2 separate regions of the Homo sapiens genome follow, and region 1 is linked to region 2. The links come from fine-mapping of genetic effects on gene expression. A gene starts in region 2. The other region holds a variant in brackets. All regions are shown on one strand. Distances are from middle to middle.

Region 1 (11,560 bases), 140 kb before region 2:
CGCCGTGATCGTATAGTGGTTAGTACTCTGCGTTGTGGCCGCAGCAACCTCGGTTCGAATCCGAGTCACGGCAATGTCGTTAGTCTAGGCTGTCAGCTCTTCCCTTTTGCTCCCGCAACCAGGCGCGTCAGGGGAAGGAAAAGAGACCTCACACCTTACTAACTTGGCGAGGAATCCAAGGGAAACCCTGGACGTGCTCCCTCCTGTTTCTGAGCCTCACGCAGCAAATAACCCAGTCGGCCCTGTTGGTGGCTTACACGAAGGCAATGGTGTGCTCAGAACCGTTCTTCCGGTCACTGGGGGCACGTCGGGGTAAGGAAAAGAGACCTCACAGCTCACTAACCTGGGGAGGAGTCCAAGGGAAACTCTGGACGTGCACCGTCCTGTCTCTGAGCCTCACAGAGCAAATAACCCAGTCAGCCCTGTTGGTGGTGGCTTACACGAAGGCAATGGTGTGCTCAGAACCTGTTTTCCAGTCACTGGGGCTGTTACACACGAAACGACAAGAAGCTTTTAATGACTTTAAACTCCAAACTCTTTGTTGTGGCCTACAATGGCTTGTCTCTGTGCCCGTCACCAAGTTTGTATGCCAACAGCAAAGTGTGAGGAAAGGCAATCTGGTGCCAGGGGTCTTTCCACCTCCACTCTGCCACGTAGGAATGGGCCTTGGGCCTGGAGCACTTCCTTCCTGAGAGATAAGGAGTCATCACAGCCTGTGCTGGACTCACCTCCTTGTGTGGGAGTATCTTTCCCCCGATCAGACTTGGTGTGTACCCCTTTGTTCCACTTAAGCATGTGCATCAACTGGCACCTGGCCAGCTGCTGTATCTGCCCCCCACTGAGGGGAGGAAGCGGGGGTCCTTTCTTCTGCTTCTCAAGAGGCTGTGTGTGCAGGCCAAATGGAGGGACCTGCTGGCCATGGGGGACCAACGCCCAAGACTGAAGCGGAGCCCACACCCCGCTCTGTCTCCTCTCTGTATGAATAATGTGTTGTTCTCCCGTCCAGTCTCTGACTGCCTTGTATTTCCTTGGCGACTCTGATACCAAGAGGCTAGGGCCAGAAGTGTTCAGACTCCTGCTGATAGGAAACCGATGCCACTTGCTGGACAAGATGAACGAAAATTCTTCTTGTATAGGTCTTTTTGTGGACACGTGCATTCATTTCCCTTGAGGAATACCAAGTACTGGAATTGTTGGATCATAGGGTAGGTGTAATATTAACTTTATTAGAAACGGCCAAATGGTTTCTTCCAGAATGCTTTCTCACCAGCAAGGAGAGTTCCACTGGCTGGACATCCTTGACAGCGCGTGGTGTTTACTGTTTTTTAAATACACCTGTTCTGGTGGATGTAAAACGGTACCACATCGTGGCTTCAATTTGTGTTTCCTTTAATGAGTAATGCTGTTGAGCATATTTTCTAATGCCTTTTCACCGTTTAGCAATCCTTCTTTGAGAAGACAGGCTTTGAAGCATTTTCCCTAATTCAATTGGCTTTGCTTTTTATTACTGATTTGTAAAAAGTACTCTCTATATTCAAAATTTGAGCCTTTTTTTTTTCAGGTAAACACAGTGCAATTATCTTCTCCCAGTCTGTGGCTCACCTTCTCACTTTCTCATGGTGATTCTTGATGAGCAGAAGTTGATAACTTTGGTGAAATTCTACTTTGCTTTATTTTTTCCTGTTATCTCTTAAGGCAGAAATGTATTCTGCTACATTCTCTTCCAATAACTTTAGGGTTTCGTTTTAATTTCTAAATCTATGGCATATCAAATTCATCTCCTGACCACAGCAAACTTAGCATCTGCTAATGTCCTGATCACCAGAAAACTTCTGTATACTGTAAATACACTGGCAAGAGTTACTTCTCTGCTGTTTCACAGCTATGGGCCCTGTGCCTCCCTCCATTTCTTCCCTACTCCTCTCTCCCTCTGTCTCCTTCTCTGTCCTTCTGTCTCTCCTCTGATGCAGCTGAGAATCCCAGAGACATCTGAAACAGAGAAGTGGACAGGTCCAGTCTAATCTATGTCCAAGAACCCAGGTTCTGTATTAGAAATCTATGTCGGCCCTTGCCTGACCTTGGTTAACTATCTTAAATGTTATGTGCCTCAACATTTTTCTGTGGAAGGTTGGGCCTCTTTGGGAACTCTGCCTTACACTGCTGTTGTCAGACGGGCCTGGATTTAGTGACTACTCAATCAATAACGTAATCACTAGAATTATAAAAATCATTATCATTGTCCTCTGCCTTATTTGTGAACAATCACTCTCCAGATTGTTTTCACTTTACCTTTGCTTGTAGAACTTCACGCAGATGGAATCACGTTGCATCTACTCTGTTCTACATGCTTCTTTCTCTCTGCATAATGTCTCTGGCTCTATCCATTGCTGAGTGTAGCAGAAGTTCATTCCTCTTTCATTGCTGAGTAGTATTCCATTGCAAAGAGACAGCACAGTTTGTTTGCCATTCTCGCCCCACCTCCACCCCGATAATGAGCGTCTGGGTATTGGCTATTCTGAATAAACCGGTATTGGGTATTCTGAATAAGCCGGCTTTGAACTTTCTTCCCACAAGAGATTTTGAGGGCACCTGTTTTCGTGTCTCTTGGGGAAAACCTAGTTGCCTAATTGCTGGTACCAAAGAGTGAGATATGTGCAAGATCATAAAAACTCACAAAACTTGGCCCAAAGTAGTTGTGTCATTTTACATTTCCAGCAATGACGTGTGAGAGTTGTGGTTGTTCTTCATCTTCTCCAAGATTGGGTGTTTCCTCTCCTTATAAATTTAGCCATGCTACTGGGAGTTATAGTGGTGTCTCAATGTGGTTTTGATTTCCATTTTCCTGAGAGCTAAACATATTGTATATGCTTTGTTGACCATGTGTGTACCTTTTATTCTTATGTATCTGTTCAAGTCTTTTACCCATCTAGCATACTTGGGTTGATTGGTTTGTTGTTGTTGTTGTTGTTGTTGTTGTTGTTGTCCTTGTTGTTTTAATTACCAGGTAAGAAGATCTCAGCATACTTTATAGTTACAGGGTTTGGGGGTCAGATAAGTTTCGTGACTATTTTCTCCCTGTCTGAGGCTGTCTCATTTCTTCACTTTCTTTGTTGCCTCTTTTGATGAGAAGATATGGCTAATATTTGATGAAGTCTAATGTATCAAGCCTTTCCTTTATACATTTTTTTCTGTGCCCTATTTAATAAATCTCTGTCTACCAACAAGTCACAAAGTATCCTCGAAATGCTTTATATCTTTGGCTTTTATATTTTGGTCTATAATGTGTCTCAAGTTACTTTCAAGTGTAGTGTGAGGGAGAAATAACCTTGTTCGTCTACCCCTTCTCCTTTATGAAAGGCAATTAATTGAAACTATTTCCTTTGCCCCATTAAACTGCTTTTATTGAAAACCTATGGCCAGTCATGGTGGCTCATGACTGTAATCCCAGCACTATGAGAGACTGAGGCCTGTGGATCACTTGAGCCCAGGAGTTGGAGACCAGTCTGGGCAACATGGAGAAACCTCATGTCTACTAATATGTGCCTGTAGTATGAGCTACCTGGGAGGCTGAGGCACGGGGATCGCTTCAGCCTGGGAAGCAGAGATTGCAGTGAGCCGAGATCGCGCCACTGCACTCTAGCCTGGATGACAGAGTAAGTCCCTGTCTCAGAAAACAAAAAGAAATTAACAAACAAACAAAAAACCTATGAACCTTATAGCTGTGGGTCAGTTTCAGGTCTCCAAAGTCAGTCTGTTGATGTATTTGTGTCTCCCAATGCCACTTGCACACTGCCTTGATTATAACAGCTTAGAGTGAGTCTGAAACTCAGGTTGTGCAAGTCCTCTGGTTTTCTTCTTTTTCACACAGCATAATAAGCTTTGAAATAGGTCATAACTCATGTAACCATCACATAGATCAAGATATGCTGTCACTTCATACCTCTCATTTCAGTGTGGGATACAAGTACTTGCACATCTATGCTGATTGCCCCCTTGGGGCCAAGGATCATTGTTACGGGAAGTCAGGGACCCCAAGTGGAGGGACCGGCTGCAGCCAAGGCAGAGGAACATAAATTGTAAAGATTTCACCTTAATATGGACATTTACCAGTTCTCAAATAATACTTTTATAATTTCTTTTGCCTCTCTTTACTTTAATCTCTTAATCCTGTTATCTTCATAAACTGAGGATATACCTCACCTCAGGACCACTGTGATAATTGTGTTAACTGTACAAATTGATTGTAAAACACGTGTTTGAACAACATGAAATCAGTGCACCTTGAAAAAGAACAGAATAATAGCGATTTTTGTGAAACAAGGGAAGACAACCATAATTTCTGACTGCCTGTGGGGTCGGGCAAAAAGAGTCATATTTTTCTTCTTGCAGAGGGCCTATAAACGAACATGCAAGTAGTCAACATATCACTAAATTCTTTTCCTAGCAAGGAATATTAATATTAATACTCTGGGAAGAGAATGCATCTCTGGGGGGAAGTCTATGAACGGCCACTCTGGGAATGTCTGTCTTGTGCAGTTGAGATAAGGACTGAGATAAGCCCTGGTCTCCTGCAGAACCCTCAAGCTTACTAGGGTTGGGAAAACTCAGCCCTGGTAAATTTGTGGTCAGACCAGTTCTCTGCTCTCAACCCTGTTTTCTGTTGTTTAAGATGTTAATCAAGACAATACATGCACCACTGAACATTGACCCTTATCAGTGGTTCTGCCTTTGCCGTTTGCCTTGTGATCTTTGTTGGACCCTTATCAGTGGTTCTGGTTTTGCCCTTTGCCCTGTTCCCTCAGAAGCATGTGATCTTTGTTAGACCCTTATCAGTGGTTCTGCTTTTTGCTATTTGAAGCATGTGATCTTTGTACCTACTCTCTGTTCTTACACACCCTCTCCTTTTGAAACCCTTAATGAAAACTTGCTGGTCGGAGACTCAGGTGGGCATCACAGTCCTACTAATATGTGATGTCACCCCTGGCACCCCACCTGTAAAATTCCTCCCTTTGTACTGTCTGTCTTTATTTCTCAGCTGGCTGACACTTATGGAAAATAGAAAGAACCTACGTTGAAATATTGGGGGCGGGTTCTCCCAATAGATCCTCTCTTCTACCCTCTGGAGAGAATAAATCTTCAGTTGTCTGCAGGGAGGAGGAACACACAAAAAGTCCACAACACTCAGCACAGAGTCCAGATTTTGGTAGTGGGGTTGATGGGGAGGAAGCTCACATTTCAGGCCTTTCAAAATCTTAGGAAAAGTTTTCTTTATTTCTAACTGTGAAATGTACAAAGCTTTGGGTCATTTATAATTTCTTCTTCTTCTTGAAAGATCACAGGAGACCTAATATTTGTGTCCCCCCAAAATGCCTTGGTTGAAACCCTAACCTTCCCCTGTCCACCCCTGGAAAGTGTTAAAATTAGGAGGAGGGGCCTTTGGGAGGTAATTAGATCCAGAGGGTGGAGTCCTCCTGAGTGGGATTAGTGCCCCTATAAAAGGGACACTAGAGAGCTCTCTCAGCCTCTTTCAGCCCCCTGCAGATACAGTAGGAAGATGGCAGTCTATGACCAGGAAGAGGTTCCTCACCATAACCCTACCATGCTGGCACCTTGACCTTAGACTTCCAAACTCCAGAACTGTGAGAAATGTCTGTTGTGGATCAGCTACCCAGTTTATGGTACATTAGCTCCAACTAAGACAGAGATGGAGTCCCATGGAGGGTGTCTAATTTTTGATGCTGGTCATTGCATTCTTCATGTGGGATGTTGCAAATTAGAAACTGAGGGAGAGCTGACCTTTCCTGCATATGTAAGAAGAGAGTGGAGGGGCAAAGATACAGAATGGGAAAGAACAAGCTGGAACCAGAAAACTTATTTCAGGGTCTGGCACTTGAATGTCTTATTTTAGAGAAAGAGAAGACACTGGTAGAAGACCTTCAGTGGAAACCTTCAGCAGATATTTAAAAGCCATTCAATTACATCTTCACTTGTTTGTATGTAGTTCCTCTTTTCCCATCTTTGTAAGTGTGGCACAGGTGAACTGGATGTGTTTATTCAATGTGTTTTTGGAATGCATGTGTAAATAAAAATGACTGTGTCATACTTCCCATATTCATCCCGGAACCTCCTAGAGTTCCCTTAGGTTCTGCCAATTGTACATTGAAAGTACAACAGGCCCGTCGTGGGGATTAATTTTCATTGAACATTTCTAGGAGGAGGGAGGAGGAGGTGGGGGGAATGTGACAGTCTCAACAACAGTTGCTATACTACTCTTACCAAAGTGGTTTTCCTATGTACTTCTCAACAGATCGGCCCTTTCTTCAAATAAGAGCAGTTGGAACAACAAAAGCTGTTCAGTTGTACCCTTGGAATCCACGGAAATCCTGGGTAGGGAAGCTCCAGTACCACCAACTGGAAAGACTGGGAATGCCTAGTAGCTGGTACTGGCCATTGTCGTAGGCTTTGTCCACTTTGACAAACTGAAGACGGGGACTCGACTCACCTTCGCCAGCCACAGGAGGACCTCCAGACGAGGTTAGGTCGACTTCATGGTAACTTTAGATCTTGAAACCTCACAGGATTTTTCTTCTCTTCCCCTTGATCTCTCTTCCGCTTACTCAACAGGACCGGACTCGCCGCCTTTCTTTCCCGTCAGAAAGGGATCCCTTGCGGACAAGACCGAAGTGAGTAGCTGGTTTCCCCTACGTGTCCTTCCGGGGCTGGGTGTCTCGGGAGCTCAGGCTGACAGGAGACCTAACTACCGGCGACTGAGACCAGCAGGAGCCTGGAGGGGCGCGCACCAGGGTGGAGGTTTGGTGCCGGGGGTTGAGAACAACAGTCAAACCCTCTTCTTCCCTGTACCGCGCACCTGCCCCCTGGGATGCCGAACGAAGTGGCCCCTAAGGCTTCTCTGCAGGTCCAACCGAAACAGGCCTGAAGTTCCAGGATGGGCGAGAGGATCCTCTTTGAGCGAAACCAGCCTTCTGCCTGGCTGGCCCTGGTCAACACACTCGGAAGAGGCCGATTTGGAGGACAGAACGGAAGAAAAGACCTAAAGGTAGAATCTCATGATGTCGAGATGTTAAAACCCTCAAATTTTTCCAAATATGCAGGGGGGGAAAGAGGATAATAATATTCCCAATATCGCAAGAGTTATACACCCCCGCGTGAAATGGTCCTTAATAATATTCCAAGGCGGAGGGGATGATGTTACTACATATATCGCAGAAAGTGTACACCCCCCAGGGATATTATTCCCATGATCCTGGAGGGAAGAGGATATTACTTTAAATATCACAGAAGGTGTACACGCCCCCAGTGATATTGTTTCTAATTTCAACGTGGGAGAGGAGGATATGACACCCAACATCGCAGGGAGTAGAAACACTCCTGTGATACTGTTCTCAATATTCAGGGAGAAAGAGGTTGATATTACTCCCAATACAGATGAGTGTACACAGGTCTGTGAAATAGTTCATAATTTCCAGAGGGGGAGTTGATATATACTCACAATATCGTAAACAGGCTATGAGTCCACCGTGGATCGTAATAGCTAGGGGTGGAGAGATCGTTGCTATTACTCCCCTTATTGCGGGGGGTGCCTCACCCCCCTGAGATGTGGATCGTGATAGCCGGGGCAGGTGGAGGGGGTTCCTATTACTCCCCATATCGCAGGGGTTGCCTCACACACCTGCGATGTGGATTGTGACAGCCAGG[G/T]GGGGAGAGGGGGTTGCTATGACTCCCCATATCGCGGGGGGTGCCTCACCCCCCTGCGATGTGGATTGTAATAGCCAGGAGAGGATCCAGAAGTCAGAATCCATTTTCTATCCAAACCATATAGAATAGTGATGGCTTTGGTTTCTGAGAATAGATCCAGGCATGGAATCACACAGACTTTCATTCAGAGCTGGGTTTTGCCATGTGCAAGTACCTCACCTCTTAGAGGAGATGAGATAAAATATGTGGAACACTTTTCACAAGTCTGGCACACAGACAGCACTCGCATATTTTTAGTGCTCTTATTGTTGAATCCTTTGGGAGAAAAGATAATAGATTAGAGTGTGGATTTTTTTCCCTCAGGTTTTGTTTTGAGCTCAGGCTGCTTTATTCAGTGATGACCTGTATTTACTTCATAAGCAGACACTTCATTGGAGATTTTAGCTATATTTTCCCCATGGGCCCACTTTATGCTGAAACAGTAGCACAGATGGTGAGACAGTTTAATGCCATTGCCTTACCTCCTGATAACAGCATCGTTGACATGTCAGCACTCCATGTCAAAATATTATGACAAGCATAATAAGTAAAATAAATTAAAAACACTTATTGATTTTAAGTGTTATTTCCGTCTACTATCAATGACATACGATGTCAAATGTGATATAATTGAAGTATATTTTAAGCAAGATAATTAACAAATTGGATTTTGGAGTTGATTCTTTACATGCTTTATGCAATTTCATGAAAAATCCCCGTATGTAGACACAAATCAACAGAAGCTCCTGGCCATGAATATTGTAATATACAATTCCAATGATACCCTTCCTACCAAGGCATCATGCCCATACACATGAGATGAGAGAAGAGAGAAAAATATGCTGTTGACTTTGCTCACACCATTCTGGTAGAAATCAACAGCCAACCCAGCATTCATACAAAACTTAGAATTGGAGTAGTGGTAACTTGCTCTTCATTTTATCTCAACCCCATCAAGATCTACCTTCTCTGTACTGAAGGTTTCCTAGGCAAGGGTAGAGATTGGGCTGGGGCAGAGGTACACCCAACCAACCACCACCTTCTGGACCCCATCGGGGGTGACATCACGTTTTCATGAGGGAAGGCTTTAATAATAACAAAATCCGAGTGCTACAGAAGATGAAAAGCCCCATGCTCTTCTGCACTGGAGAGTGAAGCTTTTAGTACAACAATGTGGTTAAAAAGCAGGAGGAGAAAAGGAAGCAGAGGCATCAATTACAATTAGAGATTTCCTGACAAGGCCTATGCTAAACGAGTTATAGAGGCAATTACCCTAAAAATTTTGAAGCAGCCATTTGCTCAGTAACTTACACCGACCTGACACCCAACCAGAGATTGCCATAAGCAGGGAATTTATGGTGTTAGAATGCTGCTTTAGCGTAAATTACCTCAGGGAACAGATTTAAACCAGTTGCATTTTAAAAATTATGCAGCAACAACAACAACAAAATGAGTTTATGCAAACTCAATACCAATTGCAGAATGGGGCCCTCTAAGTCTTTATCTTCAAAGATGCTGCATTCCTTCTCGCCTGTTTGTTTTCTCTCTCTGGATGAAGATTCACAGCATTAATACATAATAACTGTATCTCACTCCATTACGGGTAGTTCAAGGCCGCTCCGCATAAACTATATGCACGGCTTTGTGTCTTCATCTTTAAAACCACCAAATACCTTGGTCACAGACATATGTTAGGTTTAATGCATCCCCTGCCATAAATGTGTTGCTTAAGACTAATGAACAAACGAAAGTTTGTTTAAACCTCTTTGTGAAAATCAAACTAGCTTTCAACAGCTATTCCTGTATTTATTGTCAGATGTGAATCATCACTGAGGTGCTTTGCCCTGAACTATAACCAGTTAATGCTCATAGTTTCATGGTACTAATTCACTTGCTATGGTTTTCGTTTTTTGTTGCATTGTTTTTCCCCCTCTCTTCTTCCTTTCTGTCAGTACCATCTCCAGAAAGGCACTGTATGAAAAGTCCCATGTTGTTTCTGGCAGAACTGACACATTTGTGCCTAGCATAGTGATGCTGTTGTCTGCAGAAGGGTCACAGCCTTCAGGGACTCTCCTGCCAGTGCTGTATTTTGCCTGCACCCCTCTGGCTTGGCTTCTGCACTGAGACCCTCCTAACAAGTGAGCACAAGCAAGACACTCTCCCTGCCTCTACCCCCACCCCTCCTCACAAAGTAGCTGTTTTTTCAAACTCAGCAGCACTGAAAAGCTCCCACCAGATTTACCCATTATACTAAATATCAGGTTTTAGAAGCTGGGAACTGTTATTCTAGTGTTGCTGGGTGTCATTAAGGTTGCACGTCTATGCTTGTTTAATTTTTCTCCTGCCATGAAGCAAATTAAGTGCTCGGAGGTTTTTTCTGTCTCACTGGGGTCCACCCAGAAGAGAAAAGAGAGTAAGTGTTCCAGGGTTGTGTAACTGGATTTTTTTTGCTGTTTTCATTATGAGGAAGGAATTAAAAATCCCTCCTAGTCAGTACTTAAAATATCAAAGTCATTGTTTAATGCCTTTGAGTCACTGTACAACTAATTCAATTGCACAGTATAGCACCGTTTCATGGTGTGTGAAACACAGATAGTACATAGAAGTGATTGCAAAGTTGAATAAACACCAAATTAGTTTTAAAAGTCTGCGACTTCCCAGTGGAGTCTTTCAAACTGAACGGCACTATTGTCTGACAAAGTCGATGGCCACCAAAAGGTTGCATTACCTTCTGCTTGTGCTAATGGAAGAGAGTGTCCCCTGACACTGTGGCACCTGGAGGAGAAGGCCATCCTCTGGGAGGCTTGTGTGCTGACAACTCCACATAACCAGCCTGCTTGTCACTCAGGGAGACATGACCACACAACACAGCCTGGAGTGGACAAGGAAGAGAGATGGTGTAGGTGAAAGAAAGGCCATGGCCAAACGAGAGACCCCAGGACAATTTTTAAAGCAGTTTGATATAGATGAAATATTGTAATTTGAGAATTAAAAAGACAAAGTTAGGCCCCATGCTTTGTTGCTTCCTGGCTGTGAGACTATTTTCAACTCATTTAACATTTCTGAGCCTCAGTCTCCTTATCTGTGCCCATTTGGTCAATAACAATTTTTCACTAACTATTATGTATTTTCTAGGCACTGTTCTAAGTGCTGCAGTGCTGGGGCCACAATATCAAACAAAACAAGTGAGTCAGTGTCTTCAGTGAAGTTTACTGTATATTATAAACAGTCATAGAATTCAAAGACAATCATATAACCAACTCTTTTGGATGGCTTAGGATGTGCCAGGTACTGTGCTAAGGACAAGAGATATAACCAGATACAAACCAGTCCCCATCCTCAATCATTACTTATTCACTCAACAAATATTTTTGAGTACTTACCCTGCACCAGGCACTAGGGATATAACAGATAAAAATTAAGTCTCTCGCTTCATGAAGCTTTCATTCTGATAGAGGGAGACAGGCAATAAGCAAATAAATGGTTTATTCCACCACCCCTTCAAGTCTTCACTCAAATGTTCCTTTTTCAATGAGACTATATAACCAACGTATTTAAAATTTCAACCACCATCCTGCATTCACTGCTTTTCATCTTGCTAAGGTAGTTAATATGTGTTAATTTGACTGAACCACAAGGTGCCCAGATACTTGGTCAAACATTATGCTGGGTGTGTCTGTGAGCATGGTTTTGGATGAGATTAACATTTGAATCAGTACACTGAATAAAGCTTATTTCTTTCCCCAGTAGATGATCCTCATCCAATCACTTAAAGGCCTGAATAGAACCAAAAGTCTGACCTGCC
Region 2 (16,484 bases):
TTGCTGGAGAGTATTAAGGACGTAACTGAGGTCAATACAGAACTCTTTGGTCTTCCAAAGTCATCTATGGCCAGTCCTTTTCAAACTGGTGTTCTTAGAGCAGGATATTCCTTGCAGCACTGAGAGGAGATGAAAGCCTGGAAGTGAATAAATGTCCTAAGATGCAACTGTTGTAACATAGCCACTTCTTCTAGAACACCACCAATATTTCCTTGGGAAATATTGAGATTTCTTTCCCTAACTCCTTTCTTCCTTTCTTTTCTGGTCCTCTTCCTTATTTGTGCTAAGATACAGCTAGAGTGGTCGTTTATGGGTTTCAGGGAGCAGATCCACTTCCTGTACCTGATGGGTTTGTTTTACTGTTGTATTGGATAGCTTTTTCTATGTTATACTCTGGTAACAAACAATCACCATTTCTCAGTGGCTTACAACCATCTGGATTTATTTCTCTCTCTTGTTACAGGTTGGCTGTAGGTCAGTTGCAGCTCTACATATCTTCATTCTGAAATTGAGTCCCTATTTAGGTCATGCCATTCTTTGGGCAGAGGGAGAAGAGCAATTGTGGAGCCACAAGATGGCTCTCAGTTTCCACTGGGAAGTGGTAATTGTCACTTTTGCTCACATTTCAATGGCCAAAGCAAGTCACATGACCAAGCTTGATGTCAATGGGATGGGAAATTATAAGCTTCTTTTAGGGAGGAGAACTCATAATTTGGAACAATCATATAATTAGCTGCAACTTTTTCCATGTGTGGCAGTAAAAAATCATCCTCAAGCAAGACAGTGGGGCAAATTACCTCTTCCTAACCATGATCAGCATTGAGCCCTCAGGAGTAACCCCAAAGTGACTTGACATTTGGTATGAATTTCTGGGTGCAATTTTATGTCTGGCCCTGTGGGCTAGATTATTTAGCTTTAGAATTTAGAAGCTGTCTTACCTTCAGGGAGGCAGTTCATGTATTTAATCACATACATTTTAGGTATTATAATAATAAAAGCAGCTATGCTAAATTTTACAAAATACATCTTATAAGCTGGAAGACAGAGGCCCATCCAGATCTGTCTTTGGAGACTTTCTTAAGTTCTACATACTCAAGATCAATTTTATGATAATATAAATACAATAGGAGAAAGAGCTCTGCTTGCAACTCAGTAATAAAAAATTCAGAGATGATAGGAAATTCCATATCTATTCTTGGCCTAGCAGGAGGAATTTTGTAGCTTGAGAAGGAGCTGGGATATTTCTCTAAGACACTGTGTAACCAAGTCTCAGGCCCATGATTCACCACTTCTTCTTCTTTGGTGCTCTGCAAAATGCCATGGGTTGTTCTGAGTGATTGCCTCACCGTGGCATGATAGACATGAGAACTCAAGACGAGCAATGAAAGTATCATGATTGACACAAATTCCAAGTATGTTGGCTTAACTATTTTCATGTTTGTTCTGTTAACACAGAAGAGACCAGGTTCTGCTGCTGTGTGTTCTTTAGTTGCATTTTAGTGAGACTTTTCCTCTCCCTTTATGAATATAGGATTCTGACAGCTGACAAATGACATTCCAAGAACTTAGCCAGAGCCCAGATTGTGCCCTGCTGTGGGAATTTCTCCTCATAGATTTGTCCAACAACTCTGCTCTGGAGAAAATGCTCAGGTGATGCATTCCCAGTGGTAGCTCAGTTCCCATCAACTCACCACTGGTGCCTGCATTAGGATGTTTTTCTTTCTTCAGGTATTTGTTTTCAGTCCATCTTCACCTCCCACCACAGTGAATTTACTGTCCGTGAAAGGGACTGGGTAGCTCTCCCCTGAGACTACCCTGGGTTTATTTTTAGCACAGGCAGTTTGGAAAAATTACTTTCCCTTGCTGACTGCACCAGGACTCTCTTAACTCTGACACAGAATTCTGGACCTTTCACATTGGATTGAGAATGAGTGGGTAATCCATGCCTTCACTTTAGAGATGGAGGAATCACATTACAACGGGGATAAAAAATTTGCCACAAGTTACCCAGACACTCAATTGAAAGAGCTTTTCTTTGATCTGTTGGTCTCAGATTTATAAGATGTTTAACAGTGTAAAAATTGCAAGTTAGTCTGACTAAATTGGACAGATTGCAGGTAAAAGCCCCGCTCCCTAAATCCCAATTGATCCCCTGAGCCATTTGTACTACCTAAAAGTGGTATTATTACTTTCAAGCTACATGCTCAAAAATTATTTCCCTTGGGAACACACACCTAACCCAAACAAAAAGATTACTACTTTTTTTCTACTCATTCAATACCCTTTGTCCCAGCTATCTTGTTTCTTTCTTCCTATGTCTCATTCAACATTATATTCACATGCTATGATCTCCCCAGACCCCTGCAGACTATTAGGTTGAACCACATGAAATTGCCAATATTCAGCTGGTTTTGACCAATAAAGGTGGTGATTTCATATAATTCAAGCAAACCCTATTAGAATGAGGTAGCAAATTGTGGAAGTTCTCATGCAGAACAATGCAAGTTATTGACCAAATCAACTACGGCTCCATACATGGAATCGAGTTGGATGTGTATCCAGGCTCTAATACAATCTGTTGTAAAATGCAGGCTAATTAGCATATTAAATGAGAATTTAATACTTGGAATATTAAAAGGGAATTTCAACTTCTGATAGGGAAAAAATGTATAACTGATGTGCACTCATGTATGTTAATATGCCAAGATTCTCTGTGTGCAACGGCTGTGACCACTACTCAGCATACGCAACTTGCTCAGGCCTTTGAAAACCAACTCTTTACATACTTTCTCTCCCCCACCACCCCCAACTTCCTCACTCTCTTTCTCTGTCTCTAGTCTCTCATAGTCAGACTTCTGAAAAGAGCAGTCTACACTCACTTTTCTACATTCTCTTTCTTATTCATCCTGTAGCTCACTGTAATCTGGTTTCTGTTCCCAACACTCCACTAAAATAGTTTCTGCCAAGGTCACTAATGAACTTTGATTGACAAATTCAACAGAAATGCTTCTGTCTTTATCTTTCTTAACTTCCCTGTTGCATTTGACAGATGTGCCAAGATTTCCTTCTTAGTATTTCATCTCTTTCTCTGACTTGCATGATCTGCCTTTCTTTTGATTTACAGATATTTTCCCAAACCAGATTTTCAGCCTTTTGAGGGCATAGGATTTGTGTCTTATTCAGCTGTGTATCCCAGGGCCTAGTTTAGTATAGCCTCTGCAAGGTGCTTATCTATATTTGTTGAATGAATGAGAAACAATGAATTAGCGAAATGACAGCACTTTGTTAATTATTAGTCATTGCAAATATTTAGTTTCTCTTTGGTTTAATCCCTATGTCTAGCAACTTCTCTACCTGACTCACTGCCATGCATAATTTTAATAATGTATAGCTGGCAGGGTGCCACATTCTTCATGTTTTCGTCTGAGAAATCCTACTTGATAGTTGGAGGCAAGGCAGTTGAGACTGAAATCCCTACTGGTTCCTTTTCACATGGCTTCCTCTAATTCTGAGCAGTTATAATATGCTGGGCTATCACTCATGAATTTTAGTAACTCCTAACTCCTAGGAAAAAAGATCTCTGTGTCCTTTTTTTCTTTTCCTCCCAAAAATGTGTCATTTTGAGATCCAATAAAGTGTGTCCAGCAAAAGGCCACTTGTTGCTTGCTTAACATATGACCTGAAAAACGGGGGATAAAACCTAACACAAGACTCAAGGATAACAAAAGAAACATGCCAATAGAAAATGCAATACACACACACACACACAATTTATGCAAGTTTAATTTCTGTTGTTTTGGTTGGAAAAGAGCTGCAGGTGTCCTCTAATTATAACCCCATTTTCACAAATATCAACTGTCATATTTAATCTGTTATATTCACCATATAGCCTACTGTTGCAGCACATTTCTTTCATTACAAATTTAGTAGCAGAGTTTCAAATGCTCAAACTAACATTCAGGCTAGTCAATTAATGCATTATTTACAAGTTAAATGTTATTAAAAACAGGTTCTTAATTTGCTAATGATTTACTAGACCCAAAGCAATATTCCAATTTTTTGTTGTTGTTGTAGTGTTTGAAAATGGAAGAACATTTAGAACAGTTGGGATGGGAGAGATGTCAGGGATACTTTGGCCTTTCTCATCCATTTCTGAATTTCTTTTCTGCATTCTTCCTTCTTGTGTGCTGTGTTTGATGCCTATATTAACCAGTTGCAGCATGGTTGAGAAGAAAGACTTATGAAAAACAAGACCAGCATAAATACTATTGTGAGGAGTGTTTTAAAAAATCACTGGGCAGTTTGGAATGACTAAATACACATGTTCCCCATACAATTTAGCATATTTTGATTTACAGTCCCATTCCAGCAGCACAACAGGTTAAGAAGTTTAGAAGTCCAGGAAATTAAATGTTATTGGCATTCCACTGTTGTCAGACTGCACACACTGAATATATGTCTCTTCAAATACACTTTGAAAGAGTTTAGAGTTTCTAAGGTTCTAGGGCCTCAGAATCATCCCAACAATCTGGATTTTCTTCTTTCTTTTAGTTTTCTTCCTCTTTTTTCTTTAACCTAGATCATGTTCTAAATCCATACCTTTCATGTTCCATAATTCCATGGCACACTACTTATTTATGAAAGATAATATGGGGGGTTGAGCTCTTTGATGAAAAATAATTCAGGTTCCATGAAGCCAGTTACCTCATCTTCATGCCTTTCTCTCCAGCTGTTTCCTTGGCCTAGAGGAATCCATTTTCTCCTCCCCACTTTTCTCTTAAAAATTTTAAAAAACCTAATTTTCTTAATAAAATCTTGTTAAATTTAAATGTAGCTCACAACAGTCATTCACTTCTCTGAATTCTATTTTTTTATATTATTATATCATATAAATTTAAAGTATACAACATGATGTTTTGATATACGTATGTATAGTGAAATGATTACTACAGTCAAGCAAGTTAACATATTCACCATCTCACATAGTTACCTTTCTTTTTTTACAGTACAAGTACCTAAAATCTACTATCTTAGCAAATTTCCAGTGTGCAATATAATATTATTGACCATGGTCCTCATGTTGCACATTGCGTTCTCTGAATTCTTATAACTCTTCACAAGAAAGTGTCATGTAGTCACTCACTTAAATTTATATTGCCTTTTATTTTCCTTACATGTAATTGTTTCTCTATAGGACAAGCTATAGAGTCAGAAAGATCTGCTATGAATTGATGGTGTTACCTAGGCCAAGCTATTTCTTTTCCCCAAGTCTCAACTTTTCTCATCTCTTAAATGGAAATAAAAACTCATATTGACTAGTTGTAAGAACTGGTGAGAGCATGCATGTGAAGAACCTGGTTAAATTGTAGCTGCCTGATACATGGCAGCTCCTGTTGCCATAATGAAATAAGACAATATATATAATTTGCCAGGTACAGTCCCTGGCTCATGTTTGGTACTCAATAAAATTTAATTCCCTTTGATACAATGAATAAGTCACAAGCATTTCTTGTTTTCATTTTCACTCAGAGTAAAGTTTTCTCAAGGGCAAAGACTAATTTTTTTTTCAAACTTTTCAGTTTGTGTGAATTAATGTTCCATCTTCTGTATTTTGGGAGGTATTCTGCACATCTCTCAGGAAACCCAGATGAAATTGAGTGCCTGCTGCCCACATCAGCAACCCAGGTAAGGCACTTTTTTGTTGGTTCTTCTTTGTTTCTCTTCTTACTCTCCCTGTTCTCTCCAATCCTCGGATCACCTTCTAAATACACTACTGGTATCCAAACCTTTGTCTCAAGCTCTACTATTGGAGGAACCCAAACTAAGTAAGGAAAAGATTCAAATGACAGAGAAAGACAATAGTGTACAAAATAGCAGAAGAACTTTCAGAGCTGTCCAAGGCAGCTAAGACAGGAAAATGTCAATGGAATAAGACAAAAATAGAATTCATTCATTCACTTATAAAAAAAAAAGGTACTTATTGAGCACCTAGTATGTACTGAACATTCTTAGGCCTTAGGGATATGGTAGTGATCAAAACTGGCAAGACATTTACATTGTAGTGAGGGAACATGCAATGAACAAGCAAATCAACATGCAAAATCATATCAGGGAGTGAGAAGAGCTTTGACAGTAAATGGCATAGTAAGAGACTGTGTGCAGGAAAGGTAGCTATTTTAGACAGTGTGATCTATTTAGAGTGAATAAAGGCCTACCTGGGAGGGTGATACTGGAACAGAAACTTGGTCAACGTGAGAATGACCCACCTTTTGTCCAATGACTATCTTCTCCTGAAGTGCAAGCAGAAAAAATCATGTGTGCTAGCCTGGGTATGGATAATAAGACAGGATCAAAATGCTGCTAGTTAGAAAAATGGGATGCACATATTTCTCAGTGTCCAATCTTTCAGACTGAGTGCTGGGCTACTCCAAAATGGACCTTAGGACCGGATATATGCCTACAGCTCATGGGTAAGGCCTTTCTGTAGCAATACCTGGGGGGATTTCATCATTTTATCCTTCATTAAAAAAAAAAAAAATCTTTTCTCCTGTCTTTCTTGTTCAGGGCATCTTTTTCTTCAATTTCTCAGATGAAAAGAATGCCTTTATTTAAATAAGACTTTAGGGCATATGCAGCGCATACTTTATCTCATTTGATTCCCACACAACTTTGTCCATTAAGTATTTTTATTATTTTTTATAGATGAGGAAACTGGGACTTGGGGGCTTTGCTTGAGAGAGCTGGGACACAAACTGAGTCTTTTGGCTTCAAGTCCATGATTCATTTCAATGCTGAGTCCACTGGCCCCTTAACCAATCTTCATCATTTTCCTGCTACCCCCATTGATGGCAACAGGATTTTATAAGCTGATGATCTTCACCTACAGGATCCCATTCCTCTGATGTTTCATCAGCGGGGACAGGATCAGGTTTCAGTAAATCTAGAAGATTAAAACTGGAAAGTCTGAGGATAATTCTATCAAGAGATCCTGTGTATTTAATGTTCTAACTTAGTCCACGTGCTGTACTTGATAGTATTTTCTCAGTGCCACATTAAGATAACAAGGATTTTCTTAAATGTAATATTTACCTTTAAGTATGTACTAAGGTGGCTGATTCTTAATGCTCCTCCTTTTGAGAAAACTTAAAGGTGAAATTGAACATAATTGCTCCTGATCCATTTCACTCCACCTAGTGGGCCTTTTGTTTGTTTTTCTTCCAAGACATCCCACTTGATTCTGCTTCTGGAGCCTAAGATGGGAAAATGGCAGGTGTCGCAGGTTGCAGGGGAAGGTCGGAGACCAGTTGAGGGCCCCGGAGTCTGTCTGGAAAGAGTTTTCCATCCAGCCCGTCTCGGTTTCCGCATCCGTGTGAGTCCTTTATGACGTCGGGAATGCCAAGGTCTGAGTCCTTTATGATGTTCAGGGTGCCCCGGTCTCACCCCGGGAGCCTCCTCGCTCCGGCCTGCTCCTGGCTACCCGGTGGGCGGCTCTGGCCCCAGCGACCCGCTACTGTTTCTCCATGCGCTGCCACTTCGCAAAGGCACATCTCTAGGTCAGTGGTCAGCTGCAGCCAGGGCGCTGCAACTCGCTCCAGGACTCGGGAATCAGGGCCTTGGTGGGCCTCGCAGAGTGCTGGGTGTGTCGCCTGCGGGCTCCTCTTTTGGAGAAAGGAGGGAGGGAAAGGCCTTGTGAGACGACTCCAGGAGCGACCAGCGACCCCCACAAGGCCCAAGTCCTCCCAGCGCACTCAGAAACAGTCACTTAAATGGCAATAAGGTTGAGAAAGACTCTCCCGTGCCCCCGTGCTGGTGTAGTGGCTGTGATTCAGTCCTTTCACCACCGCATCCCGGGTTCGATTACCGGTCAGGGAGTTGTTTTGCACTGACTGCCCACCCGCAGTAATCTTTCTTTACTCCGCTGTCAGCCGGCCTGCTCCAAGAGCCAGAGGCAGAAGAGTCTCCCTGCAAGGTGCAAACCCTGGCGAAGGAGGGCAAGTCCTGGTGGACGGCCTCTCATGACACACCCTCTTATTTATCTCCGTGTCCACCATTCGCAGAAGGGGCTTTAGAGAGCGACTGAGCGTCTCGCTCAGGTGTACACCACCGTGCAGAGATGGCAGCTCTCCTGGAGGTGTACCCAAGAAGCCCACCATCTTTGCCGCCTCCGCCATCCCAGAGGCGCCGATTGGGCTGAGCTGCAAATAACTAAGAGAGAGAGAGGCCAAGCCAAGTCGTGGCGTTTGTGTGCGGCACACGTCGTCAGCTGACACAGGCGGTCAGCTGAGCCTCCTCACCTCAGTTCGCAGCTAACATGCTTCTTAGGCCTTCGGAAGAGGCGACAGGAGGCGATGGCCGCGAGGTTGGGAGGGGGGTGAGCGGCGGGTGAGGTCCTCCAGGACCGCCCATTTATTGACTGGGTGGTACAGGAGGGCGATGTTCGCTTACCCAACAACGACAGCAGGTGGAGTAGGCACTAATGGAAAACTGTGGCCGGTGCCCTAAGCAGAAGGCAGGTGTAAAAATCACTAGGACATCAAAGGGATAGTACCACAGTCAAATCCCGCAATGTCTGTCTACACTCTACCAAGCAATTGTGCACCCTCCCCCTTTTCCATTCAGTACTCCCAAGAAGGGTTGGGACGAACCCTGTGTCCACTGTAAAGCTCAGGGGAGAGCGGGAGCGAGGGAGGTGAAGTGCACAGACTGGGCAGAGGCGGCGGGCAGAACTGCGGGGGTGAGAGGGCGCGGTGGCTGCGGGGCGGGAGCCTCTGCTGAAAGGAGGCCTGGGTTGTCCTGTGGGTGACTGTTGGTGGAATCTTTGGCAGCGAGTGGTTGGAAGAATGGCGACGGGCGAGCAGAGGGGAAGGTGGTGACCCTGAGCGTCTGGCTAGGGGAGAGGAGGCTGTACTGACACTCGTCTCCTCTTACCTGGCGAGGGACAGACCGTGGTCAAGAAGGGAGCTCTCCCTGGTTGAGGCTAGTCCACCACACTCCAGCTGCTCTGACCCCTGCGATTTCCCTACACGCGGGGCGCTTGTCTGCGGTGGTGTTTGCGCTACCCGGGGGCTGGGTTCACGCAGGCTCCTGACAGTCCTTGGCTCACCGCCCCCGACGCGGATATCGCCGCTAGAGACCCTTCCGCCACCCTCCTAGGGATCTTGAGGGCCTTCCTTGTTGTTCCGACTGAAGCTCACGAACAGACAGATGTGAGCTCTCTGTCTTTTACACGTTGAATTTGGCTATTGGCAAAAAAAGCCCTGACCCAGAGCTTGGGACTCCTCCCGGCCTGCACACGACTTCCCGACTCTTGCCTCCTAGCGCGGCTCTTGGCTAGCGGGCGGGCAGCCTCCACCCAGCGTAGAACCGCGGCAGCCGCAGCCCCCGCAGGCTGGCGGTCAGACACTAGCAGGAAAAGGGACACAAGGCCTGCGTGGTGGGAAAGCATGGGAGACGTCGCTTTCCCACCAGGCGAGAAGGTCTCCCTACAGTCTTTGGACAGAAGATGGAGGGAGGCACCCCTTCCAGGAGCAAGGCGGCTGCTCCTGAGGCCTGGCTCCGCACGGAGGCTCCTGGGTCCCGCGCGCCCTCTCCCTACCGGTTATAGCCAGAGCTGCTTCACACATCTCAGCCGGCTTCCTCTTCCGCCTCTGCCACCTCTTCCTCCCCAGCTCGTGGGAAAGACCTAGCCTCCTCTCCAACACTTGGAGAGGGAGTTGGATGAACGTCTCCTAACCCCAGTAGGACAGAGATCCTGAGGTAGGAGGGGACCCCTTGCCTTGCTGCTTCTTTTGGCACCGCTGACCCGGGCCCAGGACTCCTCGCTCCTCCTGGAAGGCCTGGGTCGTGTAGCCCACAGAGGTGGCCACGTGGGCATCTCCCCCACTGCTCCTCATAGAACCGGAGGCATTATCCTGCCGGGCCCACTCTTACCCATGAAAGAAACTTGGGAAATGCTCCCGGGGAAGCCGGGGATCTGGGCGCTCGACCACTTCGGTGTGAATCTTCCGTCCGCTCATCCTTCCTTCGGAGGGTCTTGGGGAGAGGAGAAATGCTCAAGGACGATGCGCTTTGCAGCGTCTCAAGGGAAACTAGATCTCAACGGATACCAGAAGTCTGGAGCGTCTTCCTGGAGGAAGGCGGCCCGAGGCCTGCGGTTGCAGGGAGGCTTGCGGAGCACAGCGCCCTCTCTCAGCCTGAGCTATCCAGTGGCTTCCAGCATCCCAGCTGGCCGACTCCACTTCCTCTCTCTTCCTCCTACTGCGGGTCTTCTTCTTCTCTTTGGGGACCGAATCTCGCTCTGTCGCCCAGGCTGGAGTGCAGTGGCGCGATCTCGGCTTACTGCAACCTCCGCCTCCCGGGTTGAAGCGATTCTCCTGCCTCAGCCTCCCGAATAGCTGGGACTACAGGCGCGTGCCACCACGCCCGGCTAATTTTTTGTATTTTTAGTTGAGACGGGGTTTCACCCTGTTAGCCAGGATGGTCTCGATCTCCTGGCCTCTTGATCCGCCCGCCTCGGCCTCCCAAAGTGCTGGGATTACAGGCGTGAGCCTCCGCGCCCGGCCTACTGCGGCTCTTCTATCCTGGTGTTCTTTGAATGCCTATCTTCCTTTTGTGCCACAGAACCTCTCACGCCCGCCACAGGTTGCTCATTTCCTTGGTTGTTCTGAACTTTAAATAAGTTAATGTATGTAAGAGTGCCATAAATGCTCAGTAATTGACATCTGTTATTTTCATCAGTAACATCATCTGAATCATCTGTATTGTCTATTTTTAACAACTGCATTTTTCATTGTCCAAATAAAGTCACATACATTTGAACATTATATAATGATTGAATAATAAAATTATTCTGCTATTTTACAATAAAAATTAATGTTGCAGAGAGTATTCTTACACATATATCTTGGCAGAGGTAAGCCAGAGCCTGTTCTTGTATCCATCCTGTGGCCAACCTATCAATGTAGACACCTTTAATGAGATTTTGCCAGCAATGGAAGCCTTCAGGAAAAATGTCCCTAGCTCCTTACTACTTCCTATCAAGGACACGGGACAATTGGCACAACATCCTGGAATAGCTGAAACGGAGATTTTATTCTCCGCTCTCCTCTGTTGTCTTTGTCTTTTTACAACTTCTTAATGACAGTGCTGGTGACAAGAGTGTAACTATGTCACTGTTCTCCTGCTGTCCTTGCCTGTGTGGGTCTTCTCACAAACCCGACTTTCCTCCAGCGGCTTCACTGAAAAACAGAAGGGGGCTGCCTGGGGGAGTGGGGCGGGGAGGGGAGGAGGAAATAACTTGAATAGGGCGGAAGCTTCTCACAGGCCAGGAGAGGGTAAGGAAGGGAGTCAAGGACAGAATTTTCTTCAGCAAACAGTAAAAGGGGAAATCCGGGGACGCTAAGAGTTTTTAAACCTTTGCTCCATCACATAAGTAATCCATGATTTTCCGTTACACAAATCAGGACTCCCACTCCTCCCTCCCTCCCCACCCCCAATCCTGATTCCTGTTTACAAAGAATGCTCAAAAACACAGAATTATGTGTAACAGTTCCCAGTTTACTCAAGAAATTCTCAGATTACAAAGAGACTTTACAAATAAACAAGTGAAGAGAAGAACCTTCGTGGGTCCAACATATAGTATGGCCATGGTTTTATACTCAAAATATGGAAAGACAACCTCAGAATAAGGAAACTTTTGGAATTGAATAAATCAAGTTTATCATTAGAACGCAGAGAAAAAAACACTCTCCAAATGTTTCTGATCTTCTGTTTTAAACTGCTCTTAGACTGGGGAGCGGGAGAGCAAGGGAATCCGCCAAAGATTTTTGGATGAAAATTCACCACCCCTTGTCTACCATAGTCACACCTCAATGCCCCTCAGATTGGAATCCTTTGGAAGGAGAATCCAAGAGGTATAAAGCAAAACCAGAAAAAAAGCAAAACTCGCAAATTCTGTAGTTCGTTTTCTCTCATTAAAAATATAACTATCAGGCTAACACCTGTTGACACACAATACCAGGGACACAGAATCTCTCCCGGAAGACCGACGGGCCCACGGAAGGCGCGGATGCCAAGGTGGTTGAGGAGGTTAAGTAACTCGGTGTTTGGGCATACCTCTGCGTGGGACTGTCTCCGCCGCGCCCCTCATCTCTACGCGGATAGATTCCCACACGCTTCCCTTTTCCTTGGGCCGCTGAAACCTCTCCGACCAACCGCCGAAGAGTCTCCCTGGACCCCGCAGCTTCTCTCCTTCCCGGACCTTCTTGATCCTCGCTCCATAGTGAGACGTGGCCTAACGTAGCGGAAAGCCCAGCACGCGAATCCCTCTGATGGGCTTTGGGTTACCCAGGGGTTTGCCGGGAGACTAGATGAAAGTAGCAAAGGTTTTAATTCCCAGTATTTAAAACTGCAGCAACCCACCGGAAACACTCCCCACTTTCAAGGACAGGCTTCGAGCACAGGAACGTAAATTCCGGGATTATTAGTTCGAGCACAGAGAATGCTCCAGAGGTGGCACGCCCCTCAGGTTAGCTTCTAGCTGCCACGACCAAGGTCCATAAATGCAGTACAGCCTGTATAATATAATAACTTCGTTGGGTAGAAACGTAGTAGCCCTTCCTGCCGGAAGGGTAAGAAGTCCTGCATGGCCGGGAGTCGTACCGGAGTCGCCGGCGTGGGAGACAAAAACCTCTACCGCTGAACTACCAATCCCCTACCGGGAGCAGTTTCACCAGATCTAATTTGAAGTCTCTGGACGGCCTTTGAAGCGGTGGTTCTAAAAGAGGTTTGCATAGGAAATTCATCCAGCATTTGTCTCTGGTCCCAGATCTGGCGAAAACTTCTGGAAATTTCATTTCCTCACTGATGAGGTAATCTTTTTGCCAACCCTTGCCTTGGTACTTTCCAAACCCTTTCCTCCCAACCCTGAGGCAAACAGGCTTTCGAAGACCCAGGAGCTAGAGATTTAGGGATGTGTCCAGGTTACTCCGGAAGATCTGTGGGATGACCGAACTTCTCTTCATCTACATCTCTTTTGAGTCATTTGAAAACGCCAAGTATCTTGCTTCTAAACCCATATATTTTAAGAAACCTACAGAAGTGGGAGTGAGTGAAAGTTCACTCCAATATTTCTTTTCTTATCCACACTCTCTTTGGCCACTCCAGGAGGCTATGTCGAGTGGCACAGTCATCCCAGGGACCCAGAGCTTTTCTCCTCAGATGCGTCTTTGGAGTCTCTAGTAAAGTCCAAGAATCAAAACGACTGTCATCCAACTTTTGTGTCTTACAGAGATCTACACAAGAGAGAAAGTGAAAATTTCACTACAGAATTTCTTCTCTTGGCAAACTGTGGAAGGTTTACGGCAAGCCTTTGCTTCAAGTGCCTGTTGCTTTGTTAGCTCTGTTTTCCAAAAATATCTGTGTCAGCCTATTATAGAACTTTCCCACCTCCATCCTCCCTGCCCCCTCATGCCTGCCCATAGCACTAGAGATTATCTTTAAGGAAAAAAAAAAAAAAAACTATGAGAGGTTATACCAAACGGAGCATTGATGGTTCAGTAATAGAATTGTCAACTCCCACGCTGGAGACCAGGGTTCAACTCATAGGGTGAATGCATCTCATGTCTGAATCTCCTCTTGCTCCCTTCTTTCTTTCCTCCCTCCCAAGCTTACATACCTTTGTTACCGGCTGGTGTTGTGAAGTCCCAGGTTCTTGGTGTCTTTAACAAAGAATTGGAAGTGACACACACACATGTAGCAAAGCAGCAAGAGACTTATTAAGCACAGTAACACTCTCAGAGAGGGGAGAACGGGCTGACTTCTGCAAAATGAGATCAGCGTCAGTTTGGTGAACTTTGGGCTTTGGGTCTTTTTACATGTTTTTTTTTTTTTCTTTTTTCTCCTCTTCCTGGGGCTGCCTAATCTCTACCCAGCATGTGCCTTCTGATTGATAGGTGGGTTGCTTAGTTACTTGGCCCCTGTGTGCTTCCGCATCACCTCCATCCCATAATTTTAAGTACACCCATGATATGCAGTCCATATGCATTAGCTTTAATGAGCTGATTATCATACGGGGTCATTTTAAGGCTACTTTTTCTCTGTCATATGCATGCCTTTTACTGGTTTGTTCTGGATCCTGCCAGCCATAAACTTTTACTCACTACTCCATCTCACTTTTGTTTTCGCTGCTCAACTTCTGCTTATCTTGCTTCTTGCTCACCCACCTCTTTATCCTGCTTCCGCTCCTACTCAGTTCACCCTTTATCCAACTTCCACTTCCCTCTGCTGTTCTTCTGCCTCACCTTGACTCCTCGTTGCTTGGCCTGTTGCACACCAAATTTACTGCAAATAAAACTCTCTCTGATGATCTTCTACTCCACCTGTGGAGTTCCACAGTATGAGCAGCAGAGTAGCAGGAGCTGGAGCAGAGGTGGTGTTGGGTGAAACTCACACAGTGAAATTTCACTTATGCAAATGCTCAAGCACTTGTGAGAGGTTAGAATTAGCTCTTTCTTTGGAATGAACTATTTCAGTGAGATGTTAAGCTTACACTTAAAGTGTAAGCTCTTTCACCAAATTAATTGATGTGCTCAGGGTGAGTGAAATAAAGGGGTAAACCAGGATTAGTGCTGCAGGGTCAGAGCTAATGACACAAGCTTCTCTCCTCAGGTCTATTCATTTGAGATACATCTCAGGCACTTAAGCACAGCAATGCTACGTTGGTGCCAATTATATACATACACACATATAAATATATAAAAAGCATATAATATAAACATTACATATGTAAATATAAATTGTACCAATAAAATCAACACCAAGCTTGTTTTTAATCATTCACTCAAAATGTATTGAACAGCTACTGTGCAGTGTTGGGACTCCTTAGAAACTTAAGACAAAAATATTGGGCGTGATAGTGTGTGCCTGTAGTCCCAGCTACTCAAGACGCCTAGGCAGGAGGATGGCTTGAATTCAACAGTCCAAGTGCAGCCTGGGCAACATAGTGAGACTCAGTCTTTTTTTTTTTTTTTTTTTTTTTTTCTGAAATGGAGTCTTACTCTGTGGCCCAGGCTGGAGTTCAGTGGCACAAGCTTGCCTCACTGCAACCTCCACCTCCCGGGTTCAAGTGATTCTCCTGCCTCAGCCTCCCAAGTAACTGGGATTACAGGCATGCGCCACCACACTCAGCTAATTTTGCATTTTTAGTAGAGATGGTGTTTCACCATGTTGGCCAGGCTGGTCTCGAACTCCTAACCTCAAGTGATCCACCCACCTTGGCCTCCCAAAGTGCTGGGATTACAGGCGTGAGCCACCGTGCCCAGCCAAGACCCAGTCTTTAAAATAATAACATAAAATAAACCCATAAACCTCAAACAAAAAGCAAACTATGATTTCAATCATTGTGAAGCTCTTGATCTAGTAGATGAGTTATATATATATATACCAAAAATATTACAATTTCAGAGAAGTGCTATAGGGTCTAATATTTAATAACTTATGGCATTTGACTGACGGTAGTCAAAGCTCTTCCCCCATTTTCCAGGGGGTATAAATTAAGGAAAGTTATTTAGTATTTACTAAATTTGGGCTTCTTCATATGCAAGGGGGTTATGATAATAATACCTACCTCGTGAAGACAGTATGAGGACTAAACAAAATTGTGTATGTATAGCTTTGGCCAATACCCATAGACACTGAGCGCTCAACTAGGTGTTAGCTACTAGATTTTAAATTTTAAATTATTTTTATAGTTTTTAAGATAAAATTTACATTCATTGAAATGTTAACTGAATTTTTTGTAATTCCTACCCCTATCAAGACAGACCATTTTTAGCACCCAGAAATTTCTCTTGTGTGCCTTCCCAGTCAATATCCTGTTAGAAGGAACTGCTGTTATGATTTTTTCACCACAGATTAATTTTGCCTTTTCTGGAATTTCAAATAAATGGGATGGTATGCACTCTTTTGTGTCATTTATTTATCTTCACATACTTTAAAATAAAAAGGTCCAATTGGGGATGTAGTAAAAACCTCTTTCCCACCAGTAGCCACCAGTCAAGAGTCTTTCTTTCTCTCTCTCTCTTTTTTTTTTTTTTTTGACAGGATCTTGCTCTGTCATCCAGGCTGAAGTGCAGTGGCATGATCATGGCTCACTGCAGCCTCTCAACCTTCTGGGCTCAAGCAATCCTCCCACCTCAGCCTCCCACACAGCTGGGACTACAGGTGTTTGGGACTACCAGCTAATTTTGCTTGTATTTTGTGTAGAGACAGGGTCTCACCAAGTTGCCCAGGCTAGTCTCAAACTCCTGAGCTCAAATGATCTGTCAGCCTTGGCCTCCCAAAGTGCTTGGATTACAGGCATGAGCCACTGTGCCTGGCTCGCTCTTCCTCTCTTGAAGCAACCAATGTTATTCGTTTTATGTGGACCATCCCAGGGCTATCATTATTAATTCAGGTGTTTATACAAGGCTCTCTGAGAACTCAGT

Direction of the effects. Positions count from the first base shown, and alleles are read on the strand shown. Sizes are in standard deviations (SD) of each study's normalised expression.
As copies of G replace T in region 1, the expression in prefrontal cortex of the gene that starts at base 7,372 in region 2 goes down (large effect, 1.0 SD a copy in BrainSeq).

Evidence for each region. PIP is the estimated chance that this variant, and not a neighbour inherited with it, causes the effect.
Region 1: its variant is fine-mapped to the expression of LINC02805 in prefrontal cortex (BrainSeq, PIP 0.95).

What each region holds. Positions count from the first base shown.
Region 1 is chr1:148,291,247-148,302,806 of GRCh38, reverse strand. LINC02806 (long intergenic non-protein coding RNA 2806) reads right to left here. Exons shown (of 2, transcript NR_187239.1): 2 at 10,946-11,560. It overlaps LOC105371225 (a long non-coding RNA gene), which reads left to right. Exons shown (of 5, transcript XR_007066561.1): 1 at 1-1,205; 2 at 6,308-6,534; 3 at 6,625-6,683; 4 at 6,894-7,057; 5 at 11,503-11,560. TRH-GTG1-4 (tRNA-His (anticodon GTG) 1-4) reads left to right here and starts at 2; the gene lies at 2-73. RefSeq lists an enhancer at 1-839. The variant G/T (reference allele first, on the strand shown) is at 7,717.
Region 2 is chr1:148,153,598-148,170,081 of GRCh38, reverse strand. It overlaps LINC02805 (long intergenic non-protein coding RNA 2805), which reads right to left and starts at 7,372. Exons shown (of 2, transcript NR_135559.1): 1 at 7,090-7,372; 2 at 6,669-6,940. LOC105371227 (a long non-coding RNA gene) reads right to left here and starts at 14,417. Exons shown (of 2, transcript XR_922068.4): 1 at 13,676-14,417; 2 at 11,536-13,292.